Homo sapiens: one gene and its partners. The protein of the gene in region 3 purifies or fractionates together with the protein of the main gene of each other region. This does not show direct contact. Each region holds a gene or a part of one and is shown on either strand. Other genes may lie near its edges.

Region 1 (7,004 bases), on a different chromosome or scaffold from region 3:
AAATGAACATAATATAAAGGTAATTGTTTTACGTTTTGTTTCTTAAGGGAACTTTAAATTTTATAAAGGCCTTTTCATGTCTTTGTGCTTTTAAACTTTTAAATTTTTTTTTATCTCCATGATCTGCATCTAGAACTTAAAACAAATTTATTGCCGTCTATAACTGTATGTAGAGTTTTACACAACATATTCTAGTTCAGATTCTGTGGCAAAGGCCACTTTTTAGAAAAAAAAAAACCTGTCTTATGACCAGCGGAATTAAAATTCACATCTGTCCTGAGAAAATTTATCCACTCATTTTGTCCCATAGTGAATGAGAAAATTAAAATGGTTCAAGGTATAAAGTAAAGAAGCTGACTAAGGGTCAGTCAGCAATGAGAGGGACAGACAAGTATGGAAGGATCAGGCAACTGTTATAGGTAGTAAGGCAGTATAAGGAAGTCACCTTGGGCCAGGAGGATATTAAGTCAGACAGTGGGCCTGGAGTCTGGGGCAAGCAACAGGGATTCATTCCTATCAACAAATACTTGTAGATTTTGTCTGCCGTTTACTGGTTGTTGTGCTCTCTGTTGTGGAGGATATTGCAATGATTAAGGCAGGTTTCCTACCTTCATTTAAGTAGAGAATGTAAGACAAATGGCAGTAACCGTGAAGTAAGTTAGCATGTGATGAGTGTCATATGAATAGTACACACAAAGCATGATAGAAATTTAAGAAGGAGCAAGATCATTTTCACCTGGGATTAGGAAAAGTTTTATGAAGGAGGTGGTAATTGAGCTAGCTGGGTCTAAAAAGATCAGCGTTGCAGTAGGCAGAGTTGGAGGCATCTAGAAGAAGGCACTTTAAATCCTAAAGGGAGGAAGAGACAATGTACATTTGGAGCACTGATGGTTCCCGAACCAACAGCAACAGCATCATCTGGAAACTTGTCAGGCCCCACCCTGGAACAACTGAATCCAAAATTCTGGAGATGAGCCAAGCAGTCTTAAGTTTTATAGGTCTTCCAGGTAATTGTGATATAGGCTGAACTTTGAGAACCACTGTTTAGAGAATAGGAAGGAATGTGTAAAGTTGAGTCAAGCGTCTCTTAATGTACCTAGCACTAACTATATGTACTTAAGACATAATTGTTATCTACAAGGAAATTAATCAAGTAGGGTAAATAAGACAGTGATTATGCAGTGTGCTATGTGCTATTAACAGACTAAACATGGGATGCTGTAAGAGCACATGGCAGGGAAGAGGCTTAATCCACACTGGGGATGAATGTCACTTAAAGTTTCCTGGAAGAAATGGTGTCTGAACTGAGTCTTGAAAGGATGAGTATTTAGCCAGTGAGGAAGGGCACACCACATAGAGAGCTTCTGTTCGAAGTCATGGAAGCATGAGATATACAAGCCATCCAGAGAACTACAGTGTTAGTTTAGCGTGGCTGGAGAGGAAGGGGGTAGTGTCTGGTGGATTGACACTAGATCATAGAGGGATTTGCATATCATGAAGGAGTTAATCTTTTTTCTCCTAAAAGCAGTGGGAAGTTATTTTCAAGCAGGAGAATGACATTGTCTCATTTACTTTTTTAAAGAGACCATTCTGATGGCCGGGTGGATAATAGGATAGATGAATCTAGACATGAGGATTCAGAAATAATTATAGTAATTTATATGAGACAGAAGGATGTGAAAGAATACAGTAACAATGCAGATAGATAGTAGGGATCCTACAGGAGATACATTTAGGCGGTAGAAGAAAGAACTTGGTAACTATTGGATTATGGGGAAGAAAAGAGGTGGTGAATTCTGCTTTGGTTTCTGGCTTTGGATAATGCTATCCACCCAGCAAATATTTGTTGAGCACCTACTTGGTTAAGGTTAGGTTTTAGGAATACATGGGGAATACTGTTCCTGTCCTCGAGAAACTTCCAGTTTGCTGGGATGACTATTGTTTCATCTCTAGGCTTCTATTATTTGGTAATTAGTGCTTGGGATGCTATGTTGCAAGACTCCAATTTCAATAGGATAGAGTGCTGTGAAATATTAACAGTGCCTGCTACATACATGTCATGGCCTAGGAGAAACAGAAAGAACTTGATAGCCTGGAGGTAGAAAGAGGCACATGTGTTTGAACAGTGATTCTCAAGAAGTGGATCCTGGACTAGCAGCATCAGTATCATTTGGGACCTTGTTAGAAATGCACATTCTCCTAGGAGATGTAGGAGAAGAAGGTTTTGGGGGAGTGATGAGAATTTTTATTTTTGCACATGCTGAATTTAAAGGAATCATGGGTGGGCTAGGCACAGTGGCTCATCCCTACAATCCAAGCACTTTGGGAGGCCGAGGCAGATGGATCTTGGGCTCAAGAGTTCCAGACCAGCCTGGGCAACATGGTGAAAGCCCATCTGTACAAAAATACAAAAATTAGGCGGGCACAGTGGCACACGCCTGTAGTGCCAGCTACTCAGGAGGCAGAGGTGGGAGGATGGCTTGAGCTTGGGAGGTGGAGGTTGTGGTGAGCCAAGATTGTGTGACTGCACTCCAGCCTGGGTGACAGAGCAAGACTGTTTTGGGGGGCGGGAGGTGGGCAGGGAATAGTAATCTTGGGTTATCTAGGTGATTATGGCCAACAGGTAATTGGCTACCTATATCTGGAGCTCATAAGAGACATCTGGGGCTTGCATTAAAGATTTGAGCATTGTCTGTGCATTTATATTAGGTAGTAGTTGAAGCCGTGAAACTGGATGAAATCCTGTGTAGAGAGAATATAAAATGAGACGTGAAGAGAGTGAACTCTAAAGATGGTGCATGTAAAAAGGCAGGTAGAGGATGAGGAGCCTGTGAAGTTTGTCATTGAATAGCCAGAGAGATAGTTGGGAAATGAGCAGCATAGCATGATGCCAGATTGAAGGGAGTCTTAAAGAGGAAGGAGTCAGCAGTGAATAGATACTGCAGAGATCAAGAAAGAGAACTTAAAGATGTCTTTTGGAGATAACAGGAGAGTTTTGATGACTTGGTCAATAGTAGTTTGTTGTAATGGTGGCAAGGGAAGCCAGGAGGTAGTGAGACATTGAATTTAGATTGCTTTTTAAAGCTTTGAGTAGCAGAGAGGGTGAAAGCTAGAGAATTTAGTTTTGAGGAAGGATTTATCTTGGGGTTGAAAGAAAAAGTCAGAGCCGGGCACGGTGGCTCACTCCTGTAATCCCAGCACTTTGGGAGGCTGAGGCGGGCGGATCATGAGGTCGGGAGTTAGAGACCAGCCCGACCAATATGGTGAAACCCTGTCTCTACTAAAAATACAAAAATTAGCCGGGTTTGGTGACGCGTGCCTGTAATGCCAGCTACTTAGGAGGCTGAGGCAGGAGAATCACTTGAACCCGGGAGGCGGAGGTTGCAGGGAGCTGAGATTGTACCAGTGCACTCCAGCTTGGACGACAGAGCAAGACTCTGTCTCAAAAAAAAAAAAAAAAAAAAAAAAAGAAAGAAAGAAAAAGTCAGTAAAAAGGGTAAAAAGGGAGAGATTATCTTTTGAATCTTTTCAAAGAGAAAAGACAGGATTATTGACAACTTAATGTCTCCAAGGAGGTAGAAGGGAGTTTATGACTCTCCTTAGACAAGAAGGGGAATTTTTCTCATCCTTTTAACATGAAAGAGAAGGAGAAAAAGATGAAAACTATTATGTAGGTCATATAAGAGTTTAGGCTGGAAAGGAAGTCATGTGTTAAGTTGTAAATGGTTTAACTGTTTTGAGTTCAGTTTGGTCCCATTGGGGAACCATTGATTAATCTGGAAATAAGATGCTGGGTGACTTGGAAAGGGTGGAAACTAGATGAGGTGAGTTCCACAAAGGAATACTGCTTTATAGTATTACAAGTATGAAGTTATAAGGATTTGAAAGCAAATAAAAATGGAGGCATTTTAAATATAGAGTTGAAAAGAGTTAGAAACTGATGATGAGGAAACAGTCATGAAGGATGACCCAACCTAGTGATTAGATATAAAGATAGCACATTACAAATAAAACCAGGAAAGTAAGAGTGAGTTGCTGGTGAAAAGTAGTGTTAGAAGAAGGTGAGCTTGGTTTTAGATAGTTAATTTGATAGGCTTGAGACATTATACTGTAATTATTTAACAAATGTGATAATGTACTTGGAAAATAAACTGAATAATTTTTTTTTCTTTTTGGAGACAGGATCTTGCTATTTTGCCCAGGTTGGAGTGCGGTGGTGCGATCTCAGCTTATTGCAGCCTCCACCTCCCAGGCTCAAGCCATCCTCCCTCCTCAGCCTCCCAAGTAGCTGAGACTACAGGTGCACACCACTACACCCAGCTAATTTTTGTGGAGACAGGGTCTTGCCATGTTGCGCAGGCTGGTCTCAAACTCCTGAGCTCAAGCAGTCTGCCCACCTTAGCCTCCCAGAGTGCTGGGATTACAGTCGTGAACCACCAGGCCTGGCCTAGAAGTAGAATATTTGAGTCAGGGTAATAGCTGATTGGATAGTTGTAAAGATGAAGATTAAGAAAATACTGATGGAATGGTCATTAGAAGAATATTGATAATTTTTAAGACTAACTTCAGTCATGTCCTAGGTGACAAACATAAGATTGCAGGGGAAAGTAAACTCTGTGAATGCAGAAGCCTTGTCTTTGTCTTTTCGTTCTTATATTCCAGATACTTGGTATATGGTAGATGTTAAGTACTATTTGAAGGAGTATGTGAAGTGGAATAAAGGAAAAGGTGCTTATCGGACATTGAAGGCAGTGAGTGTCAGTTTCTTTTTTTTTTGAGACATTTATGAAAGAAAGACAAAGGATAATTAACTTCAGTGGTTTACAGTTGGAGTAAGTTCTTTTTTGGTAAGAGAAAGATGGGGATATTCTTGAGAATTAGAAAAGCCAGGAGAGGGAGCTGTAAGAGCGTGATTAATGGAATGAGCTCTAGAAAAGTTAAAAAGAAGAGGATAAAAGGAAAGGATAGACATTAAAAGAGAGAGAAAAAATCAGAGTGAAGAGAAATAGGCCATGGCAACAGATATGTTTTAATAATGGAGTTCATAGCAGGTGGCCTAAATCATCTTAGTATCTCAGGATAATTTGAGGCAAGTTAATTTGCTGAGGTTGACATTGAGCCTGAGGGAACTGGGGTGGTTTTGAGGGGTGAGGGCTGTGGAAGAGGATTGTGTTATCCAGTTTGGGGAATTGTTAGGCAGTTAACAAGGTAATAAATAAATATAACTAAATGGTAGCTAGGACCTAGGAGAAGGCAGCAGTTGGTCAGTGACCTAGGAAATAAATCTAGAAAACAGGGGTTTTAACCAGAAAAGAGCTTAATACTTTGGCAGTCTTTGCTTTATTAACTCAGATTTGTTCTTCTGATCAATTTACATAGGTCTAAAAGGAATCATTTTTTGAGTTCAGCTTTTAAGGAAGGGGAAACATGTTTTAGATCCGTATGTTAATTTTTTTTCCCTAAAGTTCTAAAGACACTACATTAATGTAGTCACTTAAAAATTCAAATGATATTGAAAGATCTAAAATGGAAAGTAAGTCTTCCCTGGCCACCCCTCCCCCAGTATTAAGTTTCTTGTTTATATATTCTTCGAAGAGTTTTTTGTGTGGGGTTTTTTTCCTTCCTTTTTTTTCCCGCCTGTGGCAACATATGGATTTTATTATAATTTAGTTCTTATTAAAAAGATTGATCGTAAAAGTTTTAATGATACGCTACTTATTACAAACTATAAGTAAACTCATAGTTTACTCATTACAATCAGTTTTAGTCCAAAGTTTTAATGGTATTTTAAATGTAAACAATGAGTCAGAAATAATTGATAAATCTAATTAGGTAACAATTTTATAGTGATAGAGGTTGTTACTTTAACGAGGGTCTGAACTATGACCATGTTCTTAAGAAATTACTCTGGGGAAAATAACATTTTACTAGAACTTTTTTTTGTACTTATTTCTACCTAATATCTTATTAAACATAACATGGATAACAAATTATTAAAAGAGAAAATAGCTTCTGAAGTATAATGGATAAAGCGTCTTTTTTAACTCAAGCTTGATTGTTTAAAATTTATTCCTCATTTTTACCCTTCCAAGTAAGCCTTTTCTCCAGTAGCCCTCATCTTTTCTTCCCTTTCTGAATTTTCTCCATAGACTCCATAATAAAGGAAACTTATGGTCAACATCTCCTCAGTGTTTGTGAATTGACAGTATAATTCTGACTAATTTATAGGTCTGGCGCAGGAATAACATTTTGATAAATGTATTCCTGGGTTTGTCTTTGGATTTTATAGTCTTGTACTATGAAATATTTAAAATGTTTGAAGATTTCTGTAGGAAATCTTTTGAAATTTAGCACTAATAATTTAAACAATTCATAGATTCCTATACTGTTCTTCCTCATAGAGTTTTGTTTTGTTTTTTAAATATTTCTTGTAAGTAGTAAAAAGAGGGCCAAATTGGTAGCCCTGTTGGTATCCCAAAAAAACATTCCTGTAGATGAGATGTTACATTGACTTGTTTTTCTGGTGTTGGTAAAATCACTGGTGCGTTGACCAGCTCTTTTTCTAAAGAACACAGAGTATTCATTTTTATTTTTATGTTAGAATTAGGTATGCATTTTAAAACCTAGTTACAATAGAATGAAGCATAGCAGCCTACAGAAAGGATGTTACCCTTGGCCCTTACTAGCGCTATCCATTAGTATTTTATTTTTAATCTGTCTAGATTCAGGGATGATTTTCTTTCATATCCTCCTGAGTGTAATGCCATAAGCAAGCCCCTATTTTAGGCATGCAGTATGCTGGCATTGTCTAGTATTTCTTGTAAGGCAATCTTTAATAAAAATTGGAATCTCAGGAAAAACACGTGATAATGGGCAATAAGATAAATCTGTACTTACATATTTGTTCATGGTGCACCTGTGTTCCCTAACAAATAGAATTTCATGAATTATAAACTAACTTATACTCTTTCTCAAGTAAAGAGTGAACTTATAATCAGAGGAAT
Region 2 (7,004 bases), on a different chromosome or scaffold from region 3:
AGTATCATCTTAAAAAGGAAAATAAAAAAATACTTTTTAGAGCATAAAGCATAACAGGTTGAAGTGGTTTTCAAAAAGCTACTTCTAGTGTTCTTCAGCTTTCTATTATGGCAGCATCATCTTGTGATGAAGACACTGGCTCACTTGGACACACGGTCAGCATGCATAAATACATCTCAGTGATGATCAAGTTACTGCCATCTACAGGACCGCTTGCAAATAAGATGAAGAGAGCTACCTCAGTGTTAGCAGCAAGGCTTCGAGGTCTGTACTACTCAAACCACTCCTAAGGGTATGGCCAATGCACAGTTTGAATGTTAGGGAACACACCAGGTAATGTTAAAGATTCACCAGTTTTCCCCTTGGAATTAATTCTAATAAAATCTTCCACAGGGTAAATTAAAAATAAATTTCTCTCCCCTTTTACTCTTCATTATTTTTAGTCTCAAAAGCCTCATATACTGTTCCAATGAAACAAGAATTGGCTCTGAACCAAAACCAAAAAGAAGGGAAGAAAATCCAGAGTATTCTATGATGCCCTGTTAAGTATTAGCGTGTGGCTTCCACAAGAAAGTTGTCAAACTGTGCAAATTCAAAGGAGTGAGTTCCAATTGCAGCCCAGCCATTCTTTGGAAAATTCACAGGGATGTCTGTCCACAGAGACTTGTCATTCAGCATGCCAGAGGTGAAATGACCCTAGAGTAGAAAGAAACACATTCCTTGAAACCATATGAAAATGGTCCTCTGAAGTCTGTTTCTTGATCATGTATGGCCCACTACTTAGTGGAGCAAATGTACTACTCACTCAAGACTTAACCACAGCAAAACACAATTCCACAAGTTTGAGCAAAAGTTTAAAATACAGGAAAAAACTCTAGGAAGAAATTCTTATCTACCTACTTAAATCGTTCCCAAAGTACAAGGAATACCTCAATATTTCCTGTGCTCCACCAAAATTTAAAACCAACAAAATGCAAAACTTTTCAGGCATTATTATAAAGTTTTAGAAAAAAGCTCATTAAAATTTAACAAAAGTTATTTATAAGTAGTCACATGTACAAGTGGTGTGGCTAACAGCCACCAGCTCTTCAGACATGACTGCTGGAGTCAAAACATCTGCTTCTACCTCATTGCTTCCTTAAGGTTTTCATTAAGGAGCCTCTGCCCAGCCAGAAGAAAAATAATTAACCTTAGTTTTTGTGTTTTGTTGCCATGAATAGAATATCACTTCAAAGCCATATGAAGCTCCTACCCTTAAGTTGGAAAAACAGTAACCATCAGTTAAAGTGATGCTGGAGTAGGGTGCAGCGGGTGGAAGAAGGGAGGCATCTATAAGGTGTGACTTACTGGTCACTGACAGTGAAAGAAAAAATTACACCTTCCTCCGAATGTTGCCATTCTACTTAGCTCAGTGCCTGGCACATGGTAAACAATAAATCTCAGCTCTTATTATCTTTATGATAGTACATTTATGAGCACATATTCACAGCATACTAACTACAGTCAATCATATAAAACTAGCTACTCTCAGAAGGTGAAGAGCTCAAAACTCAAAGCACTGGGCCAAGAACCAGAATAAATCTGCTTTTAAGTCTTGGAAGTATAACGTAATGGGCCTTAATTTAGTTCTTTTATTTTATGCGTGGAAACACTGAGGCTTAATAGATTAAAGCTCAAAGTCACAGGTTTTCACTCCAAGTTACCTAGCTCCAAATTCAGAGCCACATTCCTATTACTACAGACTTGCACAGCTATCTTCAGCTCTAGAAGTGCTTACTGAACATCTTCTGCTGCCATCAAACACTCAATATTAACACCGAGCCAAGGGACTCAAATCACAGATCACATTAAGCACAAAACCTGTCTAACAGGACCTTATCTCTCCTGACTCCCCAGACTTCAGCCACCCCAGCCTCCAGGCTGCTCTTCACACAATGTCAGCTACACCTGCCTTTTGCACCTGCCACTTGGTCTGCTCAAATTGTTCTTCCCAGCATTCAGGTCTGCACTCAAGTACTACCCACTCAGTGAGGTCTTTCCTCACCTCCCTGGTTAGAGAATCAGGGTAACAGAGCTACTTTATCTCATGACTCTATTTTTTCTTCATAATCATTTATAAACTTATTTACAAGTTTATTATCTCAGGATAGGGCTCAGCAAACTATGACCTACATGCCAACCGCCCTTTTTTTAATAAATAAAATCTTACTGAAACACAGCCACATCCATTGTCTATGGCTTTTTTTCTCATTATTGTCTATTGTCTATGGCTTTTTTACTCATTACAATAGCCGAACTGGGTAGCCACAGCAGAGACCACATGGCCCACGAAGTCTAAAATATTTACTATCTGGCCCTTTACAGAAAAAGTTGCCAACCCCTGTCCTAGAAGAATATATGCTCTAAGAGAGCAGGAATCTTGTCTGTTTCGTTCGCTGCTGTATCCCTAGGACTTAGTAAAGTGCATACAGTAGGGGCTTAATAAAAATGTGTTGAATATAAGAATGAAACACATTTAACCCTCAAAACAACCTCACAGAAGTTATCTCCATTTTGCAGATAAGGAAATGGATACTCAAAGAGGTGGAATAACTTGCTAGAAGTCTCAGCATGTGTTAGTGAGGAAATACGAATGCTGGTCTGTCTGGTTCCAAACACTCCTACTCCTAAAAATATTAACTTGACTCATTAAGTGCTTACCACATATCAGGTACTATATATATATATATATTTATTTATTTTCTCATTGAATCTTCATAAGAAAAGTGTTCTTCATGATATCATGGATGGGAAAATTGAAGCTGTGCAATATAAAATACTTGCAAGTAGAATATAGTAGACTTCAAAGTCCATTGTGCTACCCACCATGCAACAGAACTGGGACAAGTCACCTGACAAGTGCTGAGAAGAATTCAACAGGTGGCTGATAGTCAGTGACAAAATCCTCACATTAGCTGTAATTTGGAATATGGGCAACATAGAAGATGATGTTTTGTTTTTTTTATTTACGCAAAGAAGATTTATATGTCAAATACTGTTTAATGCACTGGGAATTTAAGATGAACAAGAAAGACAAGGTCCCTGCTCTTATGGAGCTTATATTCTAGTAGGAGATGGACAGATATGCACACACACACAAAATGAGAGCTAAAAGATAAGTAGCATGTAAAAATTAAGCCAGGTCAAGGTGACAATGGGTGCCTGACAGACTACTTTAGTGCAGATAGTTACAGAAGACCCTCAGAGTATGTGGCAAAAGCTGAGATTCAAGAGGAAACAGAATGCCCATAGTTGATGAAACACAAAATAACAGGAGTAGGGGAGTGAGGTGGGTGCAAGCCAGCAAAGTCCTATCCATCCTAGTAGCAAGACAAGAGCCAATTTTTAAAAGTAATGAATCACATTGTATTAAAGACACACCAGAAGAAACAGCTAAAATAGTGAAGAGTGGCTGTATCAGAAGTACAAGACACAGAATGGGGTCAAGAAGAAGGAACAGGATGTGAGGCAAGATGCCTCACATCCTATTGATATTTTAACCAGGTATGCAAAGTACCTGAAAAAAATTAAGAAAATTTTTAAAATCTCATTCATGATTTCAAAAAAACTCATAAAATTACTAAAACAAACCTAATCAAAAGTTTGCAAAAATAAAACTGAAGGACATAGTGGCAAATCTTAATAAATGGTGAAATATAGCATGCTTTTGTTCCTGTGTTCTCTCATGGGGAAACACATTATTGTTAAAAAAAAAAAAGTCATTTTTTCCTAAATTGATGTGTAAATTTAATGTAATACCAGCACCATTTTTCAAGTAACTGAAAGTTTGTTTTTTAAAAGTCAAATCGAATAATATATATAGTGGAATAGCAAAGATAATTTTGAAAAAGAAACAATGAGGAAGTTGCCCCACCAGATATCCATTCATTCATTTACCAAGTATTATTCGGACTCTTGCTCTGCCTGGCTGTCAGGCACTTTTCTAGGTGCTACAGAGCCAGCAGTGAGGAATATGGAGAAAAGCCTGTCACTAAAGGAGCTATGTGCTAGTGAAGGGAGTAGGAAAACACATGAACAATTAACAGAATATGTGTGATGTCAGCTTGGGATAAAACTTTTGGAGAAAAATAAAGCAACAGAAAGGAGTTAGAGAGTGAGATGGGGCGCTGTTTTCTATCAGGTGGTCAGGTAAGAAAACTCTGAAGGAAGCAAGGGAGTAGCTGTATCATCAAAGCTTTTAGAATGTGAACACCAATTAAAAGCGTGATTTTGGATAATAATAGACAAACATCAATATGGAGAACAGAAAAAAGTTCAGAAACAAGCATGTGCACATGTGCTGATTTGTTACATCAAAAAGGTAGCCTTTAAATTATGGGCAAAAGGATAGTCCATTGTAATAAATGATGGCTATCCATTTTTTAAAAAATTATATTCAGTACTTCCCCTTACAATTCACAAGTAAATTTCTGACGTATTAAAGACTTACACATAAAAATAAATCCTAAACTTTGTTTAGCTTGGGGGAAAAATGTTCCTAACCTTGAGAAACAAGAAGGCCTTATTTAAAACATGAAACATAAAAGCAATGAATAAAAAGTGAAATATTTGACAGTATCAAAATGTAAAACTTATAATCATCAAAAATACCATAAGCAAAATTAGAATACACATGAAGGAAGAGCATAGTTGTGACGTATGTAACAGACAATGGGTTACTATCCAGAATACATATTAAATTCACACAAATTTGCCAGAAAAAGACAACATGATAGAAAAATGAAGAAAGAAGTGAACAGGCAACTTCAGAGAAGAGAAAATACAAATAGCCAGTAAACATTAGATGTGCAAGCTCCCTAATTATCAAGGAAATACAAATCATATCTATGAGTTTGGAAAAAATCTTCAAATTCAATAATAGTGAATATTATTATAATTGCTATAAAATGGCTACAATTTGGCTAGTGTGGTATAGTTAAATAATCTATGCTACATCCAAACCAAATCTTCAATATACATATTGTTAATGCTAAAAAATAATTAGTGCTGTCATTTTTGGTGGTTGAGAGAACAAATTCCAAAGTTATTGGAATCTGATTTTTAATTTCTACTGCACTCTAAACAAAATTGTGAGAGAGCTATCTTGGGAGAGACCAACACATTATACACAAAAATTTATCTGCACAGCATCCCTTGGAAGCACTGTCGAGCAGTAACTCATGATCACCCAGTGATTCTCAGGAACATTTTTATATTTCTATTATACTAAAATTAATCTGGTATTTTCTCTGACTAAAATATTCATGGAAACCAATTTCTAAAAATTATGCTTATAATTGAAAACCAAATTATTCTTAACCATCAAAAATAAATGCATATGGCTTTGCTTACATCTATAAGCTCCATGTACAGTCTTGGTTCAAGCAAACTTGAAAAAAATAGTTCAATTATTGACTCTATCAATTATGCCTCAGTTTAAAAAACAAAATAAAATTTTTTAAAAAAATAGTGACCTGATAAAGTCAACTGCTGATGGTTCTCACATAGGTTACCCTCACACATGTAACTATCCTAGGGATGAGTGGCTTCCCGGCACCAAGGCAGATTCTTTGTCTCTCTTCATTATATGTCACACTTTCCCCCTCCTATTTTATAACAGAAAATTATAGAAATGCACAACAAAAGAGCATTTTACCTCCAGACTCCAATCAGCAATACTTACCTTAATAGTTAACGTGAGTGTATACCATTTTTTTGCTGTAACTTCAACACGTCCTAAAGCATATATAATCCATCCAGCTGTAACACAAAAATATTATCCCAATAGATATAATTTTGAGATCTCAATCACAGAATCATATAATTCAGTGGGGTTCTTGAGTGGCATCTGTATGTAGTAAAGTCAGCCTCAACAGAGAGCTATGTCCCTTCATTCCCAGATCTACAACTGAGTTAAGCCAAAACATTTTTCATTTAGCCATGCATTTAATAGCATATACTGAGATCCTACTCTGAGCCATATACTATATGTGAGCTCACAACAGAACCAGTGAAATAAACTTAAAAACCAGTGATAGTATGAGGTGTTAGCATCTGTAGTTCAAGTACACATTTATACATGACTGGATTGAATATGGAAGACAAGAGAGACAGAATATAAAATTTCCAGCCAGTCTAATTGGTCACATGGTAATAGTATTAACTTAGAGGGAGAAAATAGTAAGTTAATTTTTGGAATTAGTGTTATTTGAATGCCTATGAGAAACCCAGGACAAAATTTCAAGTAGGCGGTTTAAAACAGACAATAGGGACTGCAGACACAGATTTAAATTCCTAGTTCCAGTTCTGCCACTAACTAGCTTTGAGTCATTAGGCCACTCAATTAACCTCACTGGTTCTATGTTTTCGATTTCAGTATCACTGAGGTAAGTTCAGATTGGTAATGCTATGAATATGTAACTCTTGTTCTAATATCCTTACTACCTACTTCCTCTTTAATTTTTATTTTATTTATGGAGTCAAAGCAAAGAGCAGAAAACTATAAAAGAGATATTTTTAAATTAAGGTAAGACGAAAGTCAAGAGACTGAGAATCAAGAAAAGTCACTACCAGTAAGGTCTAGCTTCAAAGGAGTGGTGTGTATCAAAACCAATCTGAAGTGGACACAGTTCAATCTGAACATATTTGAAGCACCTATTCTGGATAAAATATTATCCTACCTAACACAAGGGCTGTAAAGATGACTGAGAAAAGTCAAGCTATTTTCAAGTATTAACTAAATTCAAAAATGAGATTTTTCCATTTTAAGCCGATCAATTCCCCTCCTTATATTTCTATAGGTACAGCAGCAACAGTCGTATACTCTTGCTTTTATTTATGGTGCCTCCTGAGCATTCTCTCCCTACCACCACTACCTCAGATGGTTTTGATACTATCTATGCAAATCCTATCCTCACAGCCCAGTTCAACTCTACAATACCCTTAAAAGCTTTGTACAATTATTT
Region 3 (6,558 bases):
ATTTCAGCCGTAGAGGCTCCCAGGAAAAAGGAAAGCATCAAACTAAAGCTATTAACCACCGATGCTATAAAGAGCTTCGGGTGGGACTCTGGGAGGCTGTCACTGCTGGAAGGCAGTCACTGTAGGCACGTCGGCCCACCCTGCCCATCTGAGCCTCTCAGCTTAGCATCCTGACTTTGGCTGCCCTGTTTCTGCAATCCTCCCTAGTGACCTCCAAACACAGGGTGCTCCCTGTGTACTCCAGATGGAGTGGGTCCACACAGCCATGCCAGGGCCAAGATGTCACATCTGTCTGACATGTCCTGCCCCTCTTGTCAACCCTGTGGAGTCTGCTGATCCCCAGCACCCCAGCTCCAACATCACTTCCTCTTTGAAACCTTCCAGGACTAAACCCCACCTGGGAACAGGCCTTCCTCCCTCTCCCCTAAACACTGAACACACAGCTCATCTGTCCCAGCTGCTCCCTGTGAATCCAGGATGCCTGTGATGGATGACAAATGAACATCAGTCCAACGCACCTGAGGAGACATGTACAGGATGCCACATTTCCCAAAGCACAAATCCACACACCAGCACTGAAACAGGATGTTCACACTGCAGGTGCAAAAGGCAGCCCGAGACGTAAATGCTACCCAATGTCAGGGTTCCAACAGGCGACTGCTGCTCACTCCACACAAAGGCCCAAACTGATGTGATTCAGAACCCCCTCCTCACCCAGGTGCCTGGTCTTTGCAGTGCATGGCCTGGGCGCTCTCAGCCCCAGGATTCCCCAGCACCAAGGCCCATCCACTCACAGTCTAGCAAACAAGACTAAGACCTGACCTTCTCTGTCTCCTGCTGATCCTGAGGCCCACCCTGGCCCAGCCTCTTCTCATTTGGTCAAAGGCACTGGCCCCCACTCTCACCTCAAAGCCAATTCTACTCTTTCTGTCTCTCTCTCTCTGCCACTGACCATCTTAAAACACAACTGGGACGGCCCTCCTCCTGTCTTGCACCTGCAGGGGCAGGCTGCCGCTTAGAGAAAAAGCCGAGACTCCTTCACTTCCCTCCTACTTCCAGTCACTTTCAGAAAAAGCCCTCTCTTCTCCCAGGCTCTCTGCTGCCTGGGTGCCTTCCTGCCGCCTCTACCCAAGGGAGGCCCTGCCCCACCCCTCAGACATGCAGCCACCTGCCCTGGACCCTGGGCACCCAGCTGGCATGCACTGCAGCCCCGACCCACCCATACACAGGCCCTTGCTCGCTGGAGCAGCAGCGACTCACCTGCCCGGCTCTCTACCCTGAGGGGCCTGCCGCCTCTGCTCCCAAACACAGAGCTGCTTTCGTCTACCAGGCTTGGCACCACTGCCAGCCTGACTGGTCCAGGGCAGTCCCTCCCAGGTACCACTGTTCCCAGAACCAAGCCAGGTCCAGCTGCATTTTCTTGAGGCCCAATAACGAGAAGCAGACAAACTAGGAAAGAAGGGAGTTTATCACTGTAACTGGATACAGGGAGAAGGCTGGAGATAATTCCAGCAGACCAACTCAAAGTGCTACAATTTTCTTACTGTTTATATAGGTTGGGGTTATGTGCCTACATGCAGTACAGCAATCACCTAAGTCTACTGGTAACTAATTTTGTTCCAAGGAGAAGGTCAGAGGCAAAAAAAATGCTTGCTAAGTCCGATTAAAAGGGGCCCAGTGCCTTCAAGGCCTGTCTACTGTGGTACCGGAGTGATTATTTCGATTGTATCTCCTTTACAGCTTGGTCCAGAGAGCTGCCTTAGACTATCCAATTGATCTATTCAAACAGCTGCCTGTTCCCTTAACTTGTCTTCAGATTTTGTCGACCCGAGATGGGTCCTGGCACTAGGAATGTAAAACCGTTCCTATTATTTTGGCTTGCTCCAGCAAAAGAGAAGCCCATGCAAGGCTCCTGCTGACCATGTTTCATTTCTAGCTTTGATGTCTGGGCACTGATTTCCCTAGATTTAACTATGTGCTCAATGGTAAGGCAGTGCTGTGGAAATCTGTCTGTGTAACTGGGGTGCTATGCAGGCCTGTCTGGGTGACTGTCAGGGACAACTGTCCTACCACACCAAGGACACAGCCCTGGGGGTGCTTTTCTTCATAGCCAAAGAAGCTGCAGGAAACCCACCCTAGTGGGACAAAGACCAATGCAGGGTCAGTCCCCACAGCCAGGTGATGCAAACAGGCTGGACGTGGGCCGCCTCCCCTCCAGCTTGACTTGTGACAGGGAAACCAATGCAGCAGCAGCAGGGCCACCAGAGTCCTGTCCTGGGGACAGGCTTCCTTCCAGCGGGCGGGGAGTGGGTGCTCCTGCCAGACCAGCCTGGCTTCCACGGTTCCAGAGACCCTGTTCTCCCTCAGCCCAGTCCCCGCCCCCACTCCTTGGCTTTATGAGTTCATTGGCTGAAGTCACCCGGAGACAATGCTGAGTGTTCCACCCCTGAGTCGAAGCCCAGCCCAGGGCAGCCCAGCCAGACGCCTCCGGTAGTGTAAATGAGGACAATGCCTGCTGGCCCACATGACGGGGGGATGTAGACGGCAGCGGCGCCAGTCGCTCCTGGCACCATGGACGATGCCACAGTCCTAAGGAAGAAGGGTTACATCGTAGGCATCAATCTTGGCAAGGGTTCCTACGCAAAAGTCAAATCTGCCTACTCTGAGCGCCTCAAGTTCAATGTGGCTGTCAAGATCATCGACCGCAAGAAAACACCTACTGACTTTGTGGAGAGATTCCTTCCTCGGGAGATGGACATCCTGGCAACTGTCAACCACGGCTCCATCATCAAGACTTACGAGATCTTTGAGACCTCTGACGGACGGATCTACATCATCATGGAGCTTGGCGTCCAGGGCGACCTCCTCGAGTTCATCAAGTGCCAGGGAGCCCTGCATGAGGACGTGGCACGCAAGATGTTCCGACAGCTCTCCTCCGCCGTCAAGTACTGCCACGACCTGGACATCGTCCACCGGGACCTCAAGTGCGAGAACCTTCTCCTCGACAAGGACTTCAACATCAAGCTGTCTGACTTTGGCTTCTCCAAGCGCTGCCTGCGGGACAGCAATGGGCGCATCATCCTCAGCAAGACCTTCTGCGGGTCGGCAGCATATGCAGCCCCCGAGGTGCTGCAGAGCATCCCCTACCAGCCCAAGGTGTATGACATCTGGAGCCTGGGCGTGATCCTGTACATCATGGTCTGCGGCTCCATGCCCTATGACGACTCCGACATCAGGAAGATGCTGCGTATCCAGAAGGAGCACCGTGTGGACTTCCCGCGCTCCAAGAACCTGACCTGCGAGTGCAAGGACCTCATCTACCGCATGCTGCAGCCCGACGTCAGCCAGCGGCTCCACATCGATGAGATCCTCAGCCACTCGTGGCTGCAGCCCCCCAAGCCCAAAGCCACGTCTTCTGCCTCCTTCAAGAGGGAGGGGGAGGGCAAGTACCGCGCTGAGTGCAAACTGGACACCAAGACAGGCTTGAGGCCCGACCACCGGCCCGACCACAAGCTTGGAGCCAAAACCCAGCACCGGCTGCTGGTGGTGCCCGAGAACGAGAACAGGATGGAGGACAGGCTGGCCGAGACCTCCAGGGCCAAAGACCATCACATCTCCGGAGCTGAGGTGGGGAAAGCAAGCACCTAGCATGACAATGGCCCCGTTGTGTGTGGTGGGGGTCGGGGTTGGGGGGCATGGTGCAGTCGGCCTTCACGTAAACTAAGTAGGCAGGTAGGATCTGAAGAAGGCACAGGTGCAAGTAAAATTCGTCAATTAAACCACTATTTTGATTACGTTCCATTAGCTTTCTTCCACTTAGCAGCAAAGACGTTCCTTACTGACCACCAAATAAACCACAGGGTGTGTGCAAGCATCAAGAGTGCCCAGTGAGGAGTGTTTTTCTCTGGGACTCAGCCAACCGCCCCACCTGACACACAGTGGTCTCCGGCCTAGGAGCACAGGACAGATGCTCAGGTACAGGCAGAATCACAGTGTGGCCTGGCCTTGTGGGGGACAAGAGGGCCTCTGCCAGGGTCCACCCACCAGGCCCACACTGTCTCCCTCTGACCTGGCCTTGTCCCCAATGCCCTGGGGCTGGCCAGCTCCAGTGGTCCACGACTCCCCCTGGCTTCCTGCAGTTCAGCCCCCTCTGACCTACCCCCACTCCCTCACAATCCCTCGCTCAGCATCCTCCTCTTCCTCTATTTCCTGGAGTCATGTGAGATTTCTGTCCTCAGCCCTCAAGTTCCCTGCCCTGTCCTCCAGGGGCAGCCCCAGCTGAGACCTCCCCGTGTGCCCTCCCCACCCAGTGGCTCTTCAAGCTGCTCAGCAGCCCTTGATGATGGCACACTGGCCGGTCTTTTGTGCTTCCTGCTGGGTCACCCATTGCTCCCAAAGCATGCGGCCCACTTGCTGGCCAAGTGCTCCAGGTGGTCAGCACCTAGACATGCTCCTCCCCCCTCCCTCCCCACTTCCTGGGGGCTCCCTTGGGATAACGTGCACCCTTTCCTAGGGGATAAAGCACTGAAGGCCCCACGTCCCCCACCCCTTAAGAGTCCCAGCCTGATCTGTCCAGCAACCCACTGTTATCTGGGAGCTCCTGTTGGTGGAAGTGACCAGGTGAGGCCAGGGCCAGCAGCATAAGATGGGCAGTGCCTATAGCAGAGGGGTGAGTGGGATAGTCCCACCCCATGAGCTGGAAGCCAGGTGCTGGGAGAAGGTGATAGCTGAGATCACCTGATATGCAGCCCCCACACAGTCCTATAACCAGCGCACCTCACAGCCGGCAAGCCCAGAGTGGAGGCTGCAGACCTGGGCCCAGAACCGCAGGGGAACCTAAGGGTACAACTTCCAAGGGCTCCGTTTCTCCTTCATATCCCCCCAGAGAAGCAGAAAGCACTGCAGGATGTGAGCTCAACTCAGAACACAGGTTCCGAGTGCCGCAGAAAGCAACGCCAGTCACCCGGTGCTCCCACAGCCGCCCCACCTGCAGCTTCCTCACCTGGGGGGCCCCTCGCTTCAAGCCCCGCAGTCCTGAGACGTGATGCAGGCCCCAGGGCAAGGCTAGGGCTCGTGTGGGGAGCAAGATGGAGAGGCAACCCCCCAGACTGTACCTAGGTGTTCTTTAATGACAGTTCAAGGGGCCAATTAAACAGCAAACAGCTTGGCAAGGCCCTGGGGTGTGGTGTGGGCACGAGTGCCTTGTGCCAGTCTGGCCCCAGCACAGCCCCTTTCTCCAGTGACTCCTGGTATGGTCAACAGCTTCTGGCCCAGGCCTGGGCCCCGAGAAGGCTGGAGTCCTCTGCTGGGTGTACAGCTGCCCTGCAGGCTCTGTGAAGCGTCTATGAGCCCAGCCCAGGCCTGGCTCTAAAAGAAGTCCGAAGCTTTGCGCCGGGCAGGGAGCTGCAGCAGGTTGTCCGTGATGGAGGCCGGGTCCTGTGTGAGAGGGGTGCGTGTGGCAGAGCCAGGCGCCGGTGTGCTTGTGGGGGTCTGCAGCCCACTGGCCGGGGTCTTGAGGTGGGTGGAGCGTGCTGGGGATGGTGTGTAGCTGGCCCGCAGGGCCCGGTCTGTGTACTTGCTGGCCGTCCTGCTCACAAGGCGCTGTAGGGCTGGCGACATGGCTGGGCTCAGGCCTTTGGGGGTGAGGCTGGGGTGGAGGAATGGGTGAGAGAGGCAGGGTTAGGTGGGCTGAGAGCTGCCGGCAGCAGGGCCTCCCTTGGCTCCCAGGAAGAGCCTGGGCAGAGACACAGTCACTCTGAGCTGAGGAGGATGGTACTGCCAGCATGGCAGCAAATGCGGGGGATCCCTGAGGTCAAACAGCAGCGCTCAGGTCAAACCTGAGGTCAAACAGCAGCACCGCCCTTGGCTGTGGGGGCTGGGGTGCACCCCCAGGCCTCTGAGAGTTGGAGTCCCCACCCCTCTCCAAGGGGAACGATGACTCTCTCCACAGGGCTGATGAAAGCTCCCAGCAGGACCACACGCCTAAAGATGCCTCTTAGGGACGGGTCAAAGAGGACGTGGAGGAAAGAGAAGATGGAGGGGGCCTCTCATCCTGTCCATGTGCGGCCATGCTCTGGATAGAGGAGCTGCCACAGTACCCACTGCAGAACCCCGCGGACCTGCCCTGGACTCTGCCGCGTGGGCCATGCCTCCACACGGTCAGGGCAGGGGCCGAACAGGAGCAGGCCAGAGCCACCCTCGCACTTCCCCACCAGCCAGGCGGCCCCTCACCTGGCCAGATTCTCCGTCACTCTCCGCAAGGCTTCCTGCTTCTTGGCCCGGTTCTTGGCAGCGGCCTCGTTGGCCATCTTCAGACCCAGCCGCTCCCTGCGGCCTGGCTCCAGGATCTACAAGGTAGCAGGTGTGTGGGTAGCTGCGCCAGGCCTGCCACACGCCAGGCAGCCCCTCACACAGAAAGCCACTGTGGTGGGTGCCAGCCTCTCTTTGTTGCCTACAAAACCCCCACAACCCATCACCTCCCACTAAAAGCCCCTGGAAAGCCCCAAACCCCACCTGACCTGCCCAAGGCGCAGCACTCCTCACCTGTCTTCGTGTTCC

The links.
Region 1: the proteins of ESS2 (region 3) and PPP3R1 purify together in Homo sapiens (co-immunoprecipitation; 3 studies listed by BioGRID and IntAct, with this or other methods). This does not show direct contact.
Region 2: the proteins of ESS2 (region 3) and GALC purify together in Homo sapiens (co-immunoprecipitation; 3 studies listed by BioGRID and IntAct, with this or other methods). This does not show direct contact.

What each region holds. Positions count from the first base shown.
Region 1 is NC_000002.12:68,242,533-68,249,536, reverse strand, and holds part of PPP3R1 (calcineurin subunit B type 1), read left to right. Parts: intron 1-7,004. UniProt on the Homo sapiens protein: Regulatory subunit of calcineurin, a calcium-dependent, calmodulin stimulated protein phosphatase. Confers calcium sensitivity.
Region 2 is NC_000014.9:87,934,183-87,941,186, forward strand, and holds part of GALC (galactocerebrosidase isoform a precursor), read right to left. Parts: intron 5,800-7,004; coding exon 5,723-5,799; intron 697-5,722; coding exon 550-696; 3' UTR 1-549. UniProt on the Homo sapiens protein: Hydrolyzes the galactose ester bonds of glycolipids such as galactosylceramide and galactosylsphingosine.
Region 3 is NC_000022.11:19,128,829-19,135,386, forward strand, and holds the end of ESS2 (splicing factor ESS-2 homolog), read right to left. Parts: intron 6,348-6,558; coding exon 6,232-6,347; intron 5,648-6,231; coding exon 5,368-5,647; 3' UTR 3,649-5,367; coding exon of another isoform or gene 2,572-3,648; 3' UTR 1,451-2,571; downstream 1-1,450. Other genes in the region: TSSK2 (testis-specific serine/threonine-protein kinase 2), read left to right, coding at 2,572-3,648. UniProt on the Homo sapiens protein: May be involved in pre-mRNA splicing.